2 separate regions of the Homo sapiens genome follow, and region 1 is linked to region 2. The links come from fine-mapping of genetic effects on gene expression. A gene starts in region 2. The other region holds a variant in brackets. All regions are shown on one strand. Distances are between the middles of the regions. Region 1 overlaps NAA35 (N-alpha-acetyltransferase 35, NatC auxiliary subunit). Region 2 holds the start of NAA35 (N-alpha-acetyltransferase 35, NatC auxiliary subunit).

Region 1 (5,388 bases), 31 kb before region 2:
TTTAAAAGGAAACATATGAAAATGTAAAACTTGTGAATTAACTTTAAAAATAATTTTACCTGTAACTCGAAGATCTGTCACACTGTTAGCCATTTTAAATCCATAAGTCATTGACTGAAAATCTTCCTATACAAAAAGGAAATAATCAGGCTCATGAATAGCAAAAAACCTTAAATAGCGGCAAAATATAAAACTTTTCTTTATATTTCTCTTACAAAATCACTATTTAATAAACAAAGAGAAATGGGAGGTCATCCTGCTTGTCTAAATATTGCTAGGATACACACAAGCTTTTCTTGAAGGCATACACTTAAAACACCATATTCAAATGTTGTCTCTGTCCTTACTTTCAATTGCTTGTCCTTAGGCAATTTAATACGTTCACTTGCCATATAAGGGTAATGCTTAAGAAAATATCGCACAGTAATAATTCTCACAAAGTAGTCTCACATTCACAGGTGAACAGTAAATATGTAATAATTACTGTTAAATGACCGTGCTGCAAGATTTAGATAAGACTACTTAAAAAATTATTAAGTGACTGCTTGCACAGTTAAGATTTCTCAAACAGAATTATTCAAAGTGAGAGTAAAACCATGTTCCACTATAGTCCATTGGAAGGAAAAAAACTGAGTCATTCAGACATAGGACCCCCATTCCCCAAATCATTTTTTAAATGATTTCATTGCTGAGTCATTAACAAATTAAGTGATTTGCTGGACTTCCTTTGAAGAAAATACATTTACTGTCATCTGGCTGATTTGATTAACAAGTCATATGCCCCATTAAAAGAGTGTTTCTGCCTACTATAATTCCTATAAAAACATAGCTAGGGGCTGGGCATGGTGGCTCGTGCCTATAATCCCAGCACTTTGGGAGACCGAGGCGGGTGGATTACCTGAGGTCAGGAGTTCACGACCAGCCTGGCCAACATAGTGAAACCCCGTCTATACTAAAAATACAAAAAAATTAGCCAGGCATGGTGGCATGTATCTGTAATCCCAGCTATTTGGGAGGCTGGGGCAGGAGAATCACTTGAACGCAGGAGGTGGAGGCTGCAGTGAGCAGAGATCGAGCCACTGCAATCCAGCCTGGGCGACAGAGTGAGACTCTGCCTCAAAAAAAAAATGTAGATAGAATCCTAAAATAACAGAACAATAGTTTCAAAAGGGGATGGAGCTACAGCACAATTTCTGGATTCTTAAAAAAAAAAACAGTGAGCATCAAATTCAAGTGAGGTACTATACCCCACAAACAGTAAGAAAATAAACCCAATGTCCTTGGTCTCAAAGAACTCAGGTGTATTTTATGACTTACATGATCAAATCCTTAAAAAAAAAAAACACTCATCATATTACAGAGCTATATAAGCTTATTCTCTTTTATAGTCTGTCTCTACTTGGACATCAAACAGGATTCTCAAATTTTACATCTCCAAAAAGGAGCTTGACGCCTACTTCCTAGTGTTTACCATACCACTAAATGGCACTACTACCTATCTAGAGTTGCTCAGGCTGAAAACCTGGCCTCTACTCCTCTCGTTTTTCTACATCCTGTATCAAATCTACCAGAAAACACTGTAGGCTCTATCTTCAGATTCTAGTCTAACTACTTTTCACCCTTTCACAGCTCTCTCTAGTTTAAGTCACCACTATTGCTCACTCTTGTAACCACCTCCAGACAACTCCCCCACCTACCACACTAGTCCCTGCTATAATTTATATACCACCAGAAGGCAGAAGGATTGTCTGAAAATAAGTCACATCATGTCATTTCCTATTCAAAACCTTTCAATAGTTTTCTACCTCATAGCAAAATCCCTAAGTCCACCATGGCCTCTATGGCCCTACATCACATGGCCCGGTCTCCCTCGCCAACTTTATTTCCTACCACTTCACATTCACTGCACTGCAGTCTGACAGGTCTTTCTTGTCATTCAAACATACCAAACACGTTCTCCTCTCACGGCTCCCACACCAAAATGATTTTCTTCAAAATATTTACAAGGTTTCATCCCTTATATTCCAGCCTCTGTTCTAATGTCAATTCCTCAAATAGAGATTTTCCCCATGCATTCTAAGACAGCACCATCCACCATTTTATATCCCCTTAGCCTGCTTTACTTTTCTTCATGGCACTTAATCACCACCTGACATTATATGTGTATTTAATTACATATACATTGACTATCTGTCCCAAGAAAGGTATAATCCATGAGATCACGGCTTTATTTACTACTTCACCTATAGGACTTAGAATAGTGCTAAACAGACTTCTATTCAATAAATATGTGTTCAACGAATGACTTATTCCAGGGCAGGGGTCATGAACTCAAAAGGCAGGTTATCTTCCTAAATACATCTGGCTAGCTACAACATACACTAGGGAATGGTAGAGACTGGCAAATTGGAAAACATATGCTTCATTTAAAAGGAGTCAGCCACTACTTATCCTGTTGTGGCTATGAATGAATACAGGGCCAGTGTGGTCAGGTCTCCTAATTTTTCAGAAAAAAATTTAGGTTTTTCTTTTTCAACATAAAATCTCCACCCCCCGACCCTTTTTTTTTTTTTTTTTTTTTTTGAGACAGGGTCTCACTGTCATCCAGGCTCGAGTGTAGTGACGCAAACTTAGCTCACTGTAACCTCCACCCC[G/C]CTCTGGGCTCAAGCAATCCTTCCACCTCAGCCTCCTAGGTAGCTGGGAATACAGGCATGCACCACCACACCGGGCTAAATTTTTTTGTATTTTTAGTAGAGATGAGATCTCGCCATGTTGTCCAGGCTGGTCTCGAACTCCTAAGCTCAAGTGATCCACCCATCTCAGCCTCCCAAAGTGCTGGGATTACAGGTGTGAGCCACCACATCCAGCTTCCTCTTCCTTTTTTAAAAAATCAGACAAACACTGTGGAGGAAAAACAACAAAACAAAAATATCCATAAAACTTATCTGTAAGTTTGCCAAGAAGAGTCTTAGGAAAACTTTCTGGAAGAACATCACAAGTCCTGGGAATATAAACCTCAGTAATAAGAATTTAATCTAAGTTATTGGATAAGTGAGAACAAGAGAGTCATGTAAACAGACTGCTACCATTAAAGATCACTCTTGAAGATTTGTGGACTTGAGGACAGAAGTCAGAGTGAAACTAGGGAGATCAGACATTGGACTCTATCCAACAGTCCAAGCAAGGGCTGATGATGACTTGGATTGGGATTGCAACAGTGGGGAGAGTAAGAAGTTGGTTAAAAAAAAAAAAAAAATCAGGATATATTTCAAAGGTAGAGCTAACATGATATGCTGATGAACTGAATGTGGATATGAGGTAAACTATACAATCAAGCCTCATTTTTAGGGTTTTGGTCTAAGCAGGTGATGGTACCATTTCCTGGGATAAGGCAGTATTTGGGAGGAGCAGGTGTAAGGGCAGAAATGAAGTATAATTTTGGTTATATCAAGTTTGTAATTTCTTTGATCATCCAAGTGGAGATTTCAGATTTCACTTGCTTGAGACTGAAGTCAGGGAAAGACTCAAGCCTAGAGGTATAAATTTGGACTTCATCATTGTATAGTTAGTTGATACTGAATGCCACAGAACTAGAGGAAATCAACCTAGGGAACAGTTATGGAGGAGGGAGGGAGTCCAGGAGTACTCTAGCAATTAGAGACGTAAGCACAGGAACTAGGCTTACCAGTGAGGCAGAAAGAAATCCAAAAGACTGGTATTAAGAAGACAAAGAGAAAAAAGTATTTCACAGTGTGTCAACCGGGTCTAACGATGCTCACAGGTTGGAGAGGGAGGGGTGAGAACACTGAATTTAGCAAGATGGGTAAAGACCAGTTCTCTGTAGTGGTGGTAAAGAATGACCATTTGGAGTAAATAAAGATAAAATGAAAGAAAAAGTAACATAAGCAAATCATTAAAGACATTTTTCCTGGCAAGTAGCTGGGAAATGGGACTGTAGATACAAGGAGCCATGGGATCAAGGAAACTGTGGTGTTTTCAAATGAATGTAAAGCATGTTTACATGCCAATAAGAGTAAGCGAGTAGTGAAGGAGAGCCTAGTAATGCAACACAAGTGGAGGAGCTGAGCTTAGATTATAACAGGAATGCTTTCATCTTAACAAGTGAGAAGACAGTTTGTGAGTATTAACAAACAGGTTAGCACTTGTGATAATGACAAAATGAAACCTTCAAGATTAAGTTGCAGACTATGACGCCCCTTTACTTCTAAACACTTCAGCGTGATTTCCTAAAAACAAAATCTTCCTCTTGCATAATCACAGTACAATTACCAAATACAGAAATTCATGTCTCTAACCTCCTTTAATCTGGAGCATTTCCTCTGTCCTTAACATTCATATCTGACACTTGGAAGTATCTTTTCAAACAGTACTTCAAAATAGTATATTTTGAATAGTACTTTGTAGTATACATTTTGTAGTATATCCCTCAGTAATGGGTGTGCCTGATATTTCTTCAAGATTAAATTTAAGTTATATCATATTTGATAGGAATGCCACAGAAATGATGATGTGTCCTTCCTAGAGCACTGTATAAGCCGGCACGTGTCAATCTGTCCAATTACTAATGGTAATTCTGGCCACTTGACTAAGGTGCTATCCGCCAAGTTTCTCTATCACAAAGCTATCATTTTTCCCTTTGTAATTAATAAGTATCTGGTGGAAAGATATTTTGAGACTAGGTATATATCCTGTGGTGTCTCATTATACTTCTGTCCAGTAGTTGCAGCATCCTTTGATTGCCAGAAATAAGTATTCAAAAACTGTACTCTTCACACAATACTATGCAGCCAAAACATTAATATTTTAGATATACTGAATTAAATAAAATATAGCATTAAAATTATTTTCACCCATGGCCACTAGAACACTAAATCGAACTATACATGTGGCTTACATTATATTTCTATGGTATAGTTCTGGTTTACAGAAAGAGATAACAGTCAAGAACCACCAGTGAGGTAGCAAACCAGGGAAGAAAAGCATCTTAAAAGCCATGCAAAGAATGTATTTTGAGGATGGAGTGATGACTACGTCAAAATCTGCTGGTAATTCAAGTTTAAGACCAAATCTAACCACTGAATTTAACACTGAGGTCTTTGATGACTGTGACACAGTAGTTTTAGTGAAAGGTGTAAAGCCTGACTAGAGCAGAGAGAAAAAGAAGAAAACCAGAGACACTGAATATGAACACATCTTTTTTTTTTTTTTTTTTAAGAGACAGAGTCATTTGACCATCCAGACTGGAGTGGAGTGCAACTGTAGCTCACCATAGCCTCAAACTCCTGGGCTCAAGTGATCTTCCTGCCTCAGCCTCAAGTGGCTGGGACTACAGAGGTGTACCACATCACCATGCCTGGCTAAATTTTT
Region 2 (5,388 bases):
TTAGGACTCCAGCTCATATCTGACTATAAAGCTTACTACATTACTTACTGAGAAGCTACTTGGTCCAAGCCACTGTACTGATCATCAAGGGGAACAAACTTTCAATCTTATGCTCAAATCCATTACTCCTACTGCCTATAAAACAAGCTCAAACCAAAAAAACAAAAACAAACAAAAAACATCAATGGCACTAAAGACGCTCTATAATTCCCAGCATTTAAAATTGTTTTGTGGCCAAGTAAAATTATTTACTGTTCCCCTAACATAAAAACCTCACCAAACTCTGACTCACATAGTTCATCTCAGTCTAGAATAACTCTATCACCTCCCTTTGCAAAAACTTGATCTCTCCTTAAGGCCCAACCCAAGCCATATAACCTTCAAAAACCTTCCCTATTTAGGTTAATAATGACAGCCCCCTAATAGAGATTACTTAAAATCAGTGCAAGATGACAGGTATAATCCACTTAATAGTCTAAGATCTCTGAGCACAAAAACTACACTGTAACTTGACATTTCTTTCTCTCTTCCTTAGATAGACATACATAGGCAGTCACCCAACTCCCAGTCTTACGTCCTTTCCACTGTCTCACTGAGGCTATAAAAAGTGATTTCAAAACAAAGGATGGCACATGATTTATCATTTTGCTTATACACAGCTGGCTCCCTTTCCACCTGCAGGTGCCCCAAGTCTTTACTCCTCCCCTTCAGAGCACTATCCAAACACACCCTACCTATCATCAAAAGACCTAAGCTGCTTGAGACAATACAAGCCATCAGGAGTGAATTCCTTCACCAGTCCTCCTCTGTCACTTAGAAATATACTTTTATCTTCATCCTAACTTCAGTCCTTCCTGTCTCAGTGTGTCCCTGTGCTTTTCCCCAATTTCTCTACTATCTCCTTGATCTCATCCTCTCTTTAACGTTCAAGCTCTCACTCTAGTTAATTTGTTCCTTTCTCTTATCTTCAGTCTCTCCCTAGACTCTTTCCCCTCAAGCAACAAGCATGTTCATTTCTCCAATCATTTACTCCTATTTATTGAATTTACTATGTGCCAGGAACTGTTCTGTATACTAGGGTTACAGAAATTATCTCTGCCCCCACGGAGCTTATATTCCAGTGAGTGAGACTGAAAATAAACAAGAAATAATTGACAATTATGGCTTCTGAAAAAGATAAGCTGTATGAAGAAAATAAAAAGTGATTCAACTGAGGTGGAATTGCAGAGGAGAGAATGAGTGGTTGTTTTGAGGTCCTCACCAGGGAGGTTAACACTTAAGAAGAATTGTGTGAAAGCGAGGGGCAAAGCAATTTAAAAGAAAGAAAACAAAAAATGCAAACACCTGGGAGAACCACCTTGGTGTGTATTACGAAGAGATAAAAAAGACCTGTGACTGGAATGTAATAAGCCTGGCGGGGACAGTGGCACATAAATGAAACCTGAGTGGCAGGCAGGGACCAGATTTTATAGACCCATAGGGAAGGAGGGTGGATTTTATTCTACCTGCAACAGGAAGCCACTGGACAATCTTAAACAAGGAATGATGTGATCTGATCATACTGAAACCTCAAACATACAAAAATACTATTATCTTTTAGATTAACAAAGTGTTTTCCACAGTTAGAAATTACTGCTCTCTCTAACCTGTTAAAGCAAGAAAAATTCAATTTTAAAATACTGCCTCAACATCTGTATTTAATGCTGTATCAAATATACATTTGCTTTAAAGTTAAAATTAGAGGATACAGAATAAGTGTGGCTAACAAACTCAACAAACCACATTTACCTGTTGATTTCATCTAATGAGGTAAGTTTAGAAAGCACAATCGTCATTCTACCCCTTCCAGATGCTGAACTTCTAATCCAAAAATCAGACTCACCTCGACAAGCTTCTTCAAAATCTTGGGTAATGTCCACCCAGTTTGTATTGCTTTTCTCCATTTTTTCTGGCATACTGAGCTCCCATCCTGAATCGTCATCATCTACAGAAGCTTTCATAACCATTATGCCTGTAAAATTAATACTGATGTAAGAGAGAGGATGTAGCTTTCAGGGCAAGAGTATTTGCAGAAATGGGTGTTTGTTTCAGCATAGGATGAAGTCTTAACTAAACTCTTTAAAGCAGAACTCTTCTGAGTCTAAGGACAGTACTGCAAAGAATAACCTTAATGCAATCAAATCGCACGTCAATTAACACTCCTGCTGCTTACTATTAGCCCACCACCTACCAGGGCCCATAAACATTTTGCCTTCCTACTGTTTAAGAAGAAAAATCACAAACCATCTCACCTCTGGCCCGAAAAGAACAACTCCAGAGCTTCCAACTTTCAATAATAGCCACAAAAGACCAAGGCACTATTCAGGGTCCCCTCTCGCAGCCCAGGACCCCATGCGGCAGCTACCGAAGTCAATCAAGGTAGCCCTTCATCTGGCCAGAGCTCGCTGGGACCTCTCCCGGGCCAGAGCCGGCCCGGACCCAGGCAGAACCTCGCCGGGAGCAATGAGGAGCCGGCAGGCACCGCAGGGTCCCGCCGGCCGGGCCTAGGGCCGAGGCACACCTGAGGCGGGCACACGCTTCCCTTCCGCCCTGCCCGGGTCAGCCCAGCCCAGCCCCGGTCCCACTGGGCGCATAAGCAAGGACAGAGCTGTCGCCGCGCGGGAGGGCGGGCACGTCCGGCGCCGGGTCGTCGCCTCGGCAACACCGGGCAAGAGTGGGGCCTCGGCCGACAGCGGGCACTGGGGAGCCCGCCGCTCCTACCTGACGCGCAGCGGGAGGGCCGGGGCCGCAGGGTGACCTGGGGTCCCCAGGATCTGCCACACGCGCGGGGGGCTGCGGCTCTCGGACACACGAGCGAGAGGGTTTCAATGGCTACGCAGGGGCGGTCCCTACCTACTTCTCCCGTGGTCACCCGCGCCGCCACGCACTGTCCGGACCACGGAAATAACGACGCCGCCTCGGCCGCCGCCGCCCCCTCCCCTCTCAGCCCAGCCCGACCGGCAGCGTGCACGCATGCGTATGCCCGGGACGCGCGACCCCGCCCCCTCTCCCTTACTCCCGGGGACTTCGCGCTCCCCGGCCACACCCCCTCCCTCGCCACCGCCTCCGTTCGGCCGATGGCGGCCGCCTTCTCTTCTCGCGAGATTAGAGACGATCGCGAGACCGGAAGTTATCTTTTTTCACCCTCTGTCGGAGTCCTGGGTAGTGGGCGGTTCCCGGAAAGAGGCGGAGCCCGGAGTCTCAGAGCCCGCCCCGTCTGCGCTGCCCTCTGGGAATTTCTTAGAAAGGTGACGCGAAGGCGGAAGGAAACCGTGGAGGTTTGCGTAGACCTTAGTGGTTGCGAGCACGAACGAGCAGCCAAGCTCCGAGAGCAACAGCGTGCTACTGCTGCCTGACAACGGATTTATGTTTCCTATACAGCGCCTGGGAGTTTCGTGAGGAAACATAGATTCAAAATATCTGCAAAGTCAAGCCAGACATTTAATTTCAGATTCTTATATGTTTTAGATTTTTTTAATTTATTAATAAAATGATCAGTTTTTAAATGGGGTTACATAAATAGACGGGCGCAGGTAAGAAGCACATCTTTATCACCACCTGTTCTTTAGGATGGCCCAAAATTAAAAGATGGAAAAGATAATACCAAATGTTGGCAAGGATGCAGAGCAACTGGACCTCTGTTATGTTGGTGGTGGTAATGCAAAATGGTACAACCACTTTGGAAAACTTAACAATCTCTCCTTATAATCATATACTTATCATTCGATCCAGTAATCTACGAATTTACTTAGGAACAAAAACATATTCATACAAAGGCTTGTACGTTAATGTTCATACCAGCTTTGTTTTGCTTTGTTTTTGTTTTTGTTTGAGACAGAGTGTCACTCTTGTCGCCCCTGCTAGAGTGCAGTGACCTGATCTCGGCTCATTGCAACCTCTGCCTTTCAGGTTCAAGCAATTCTCGTGCCTCAGTCTCCCGAGTAGCTGGGATTACAGGCGCCTGCCCCCACACCAGGCTGTTTTTTGTATTTTTAGTAGAGATGGGGTTTCACCATGTTGGTCAGGCTGATCTCAAACTCCTGACCTCGTGATCTGCCCACCTCAGCCTCCCAGAGTGCTGGGATTACAGGTATGAGCCACCGTGCCTGGCCCAGCTTTGTTTTTAATCATCAAAAACTACAGACAACCCAAATGTCCATCAACTGTTGAATAAAAACAATTTGTGGCATATCCATACAATGTAATGAATGTAATTATCAATAAACAGGGATAAACTACTTGACATACAACATGAATGAATTTCAAAAATATATTGAGTAAAAGAAATCAGGCTGAGCTTGGTAGCTGGTAGCTCATGCGTGTAATCCCAACACTTTGGGAGGCTGGCAGTGGAGAGGTCGGGTTGGAGACTAGCCTGACCAATATGGTGAAATCCTGTCTCTACTAAAAATACAAAAAAATTAGCCAGGCATGGTGGCGTGCGCCTGTAATCCCAGCCACTTGGGAGGCTGAGACAGGGGAATCCCTTGAACTCAGGAGGCAGAGGTTGCTGTGACCCGAGATGGTGCCATTGCACTCCAACCTGGGCGACAGAGTAAGAAATCAAATGCAAGAGTATGATTCCCCAAGTGAGACCCCAGGCTCTTAAAAGACATCTATAGTGACAGAAGACAGATTAGTGGCTGCTCAGGGCTCAAGAAGAGACTAAGTTGGATAGAGCTTGATTTGAAGTGATGTAAATATTCTGTTTTCGATTAAGGTAGTGCCTGTGTGGGTGAATACATTTGTAAAATTTCACTGAAGTATATACTTACAATGTGTACATTTTATTGTTTGTAAACCGAACTTCACAAAAATTGGTTTAAAAAATTTTTAAATGGCCGGGCGTGGTGGCTCACGCCTGTAATCCCAGTCCTCTGGGAGGCTGAGACGGGTGGATCACATGAGGTCAGGAGTTCAAGACCAGCCTGGTCAACTTGGCGAAACCCCATCTCTACTAAAAATACAAAAATTAGCCGGGCGTGATGGCGTGCACCTGTACTCCCAGCTACTCAGGAGACTGAGGCAAGAGAATCGCTTGAACCTGGGAGGTGTAGGTTGCAGTGAGCCGAGATCATGCCACTGCACTCCAGCCTGGGCAACAGAGCAAGACTGTCTCAAAAAACTTTAAAAATTAAGAATGCATATCTCTCTTACAGAATAATTTCCCAAAGGCAGAAGTTTTGCCTGTTTTGATCAAAGCTGTGTCGCCAGGACTTAGGGAAGTGGTTGGCCTATAGTAGGTACTCACTAAATACATTTGAGGATGAGAATGTAGAAAAGAGTTACAATAAAGTAGAAACATATATGCTAGTTTTCCAAAACTGTTTAATGATCTCTGCAGGACCA

What was found.
Region 1: its variant is fine-mapped to the expression of NAA35 in whole blood (TOPMed, PIP 0.96).

The regions. Positions count from the first base shown.
Region 1 is chr9:85,969,705-85,975,092 of GRCh38, reverse strand. It overlaps NAA35 (N-alpha-acetyltransferase 35, NatC auxiliary subunit), which reads right to left. Exons shown (of 23, transcript NM_024635.4): 7 at 60-126. Among named protein-coding and RNA genes, the nearest start is that of NAA35, 31 kb to the right of the region's middle. The variant G/C (reference allele first, on the strand shown) is at 2,655.
Region 2 is chr9:85,938,778-85,944,165 of GRCh38, reverse strand. NAA35 (N-alpha-acetyltransferase 35, NatC auxiliary subunit) reads right to left here and starts at 3,020. Exons shown (of 23, transcript NM_024635.4): 1 at 2,893-3,020; 2 at 1,883-2,011. The coding sequence starts at 2,006. RefSeq lists a silencer at 2,437-3,116.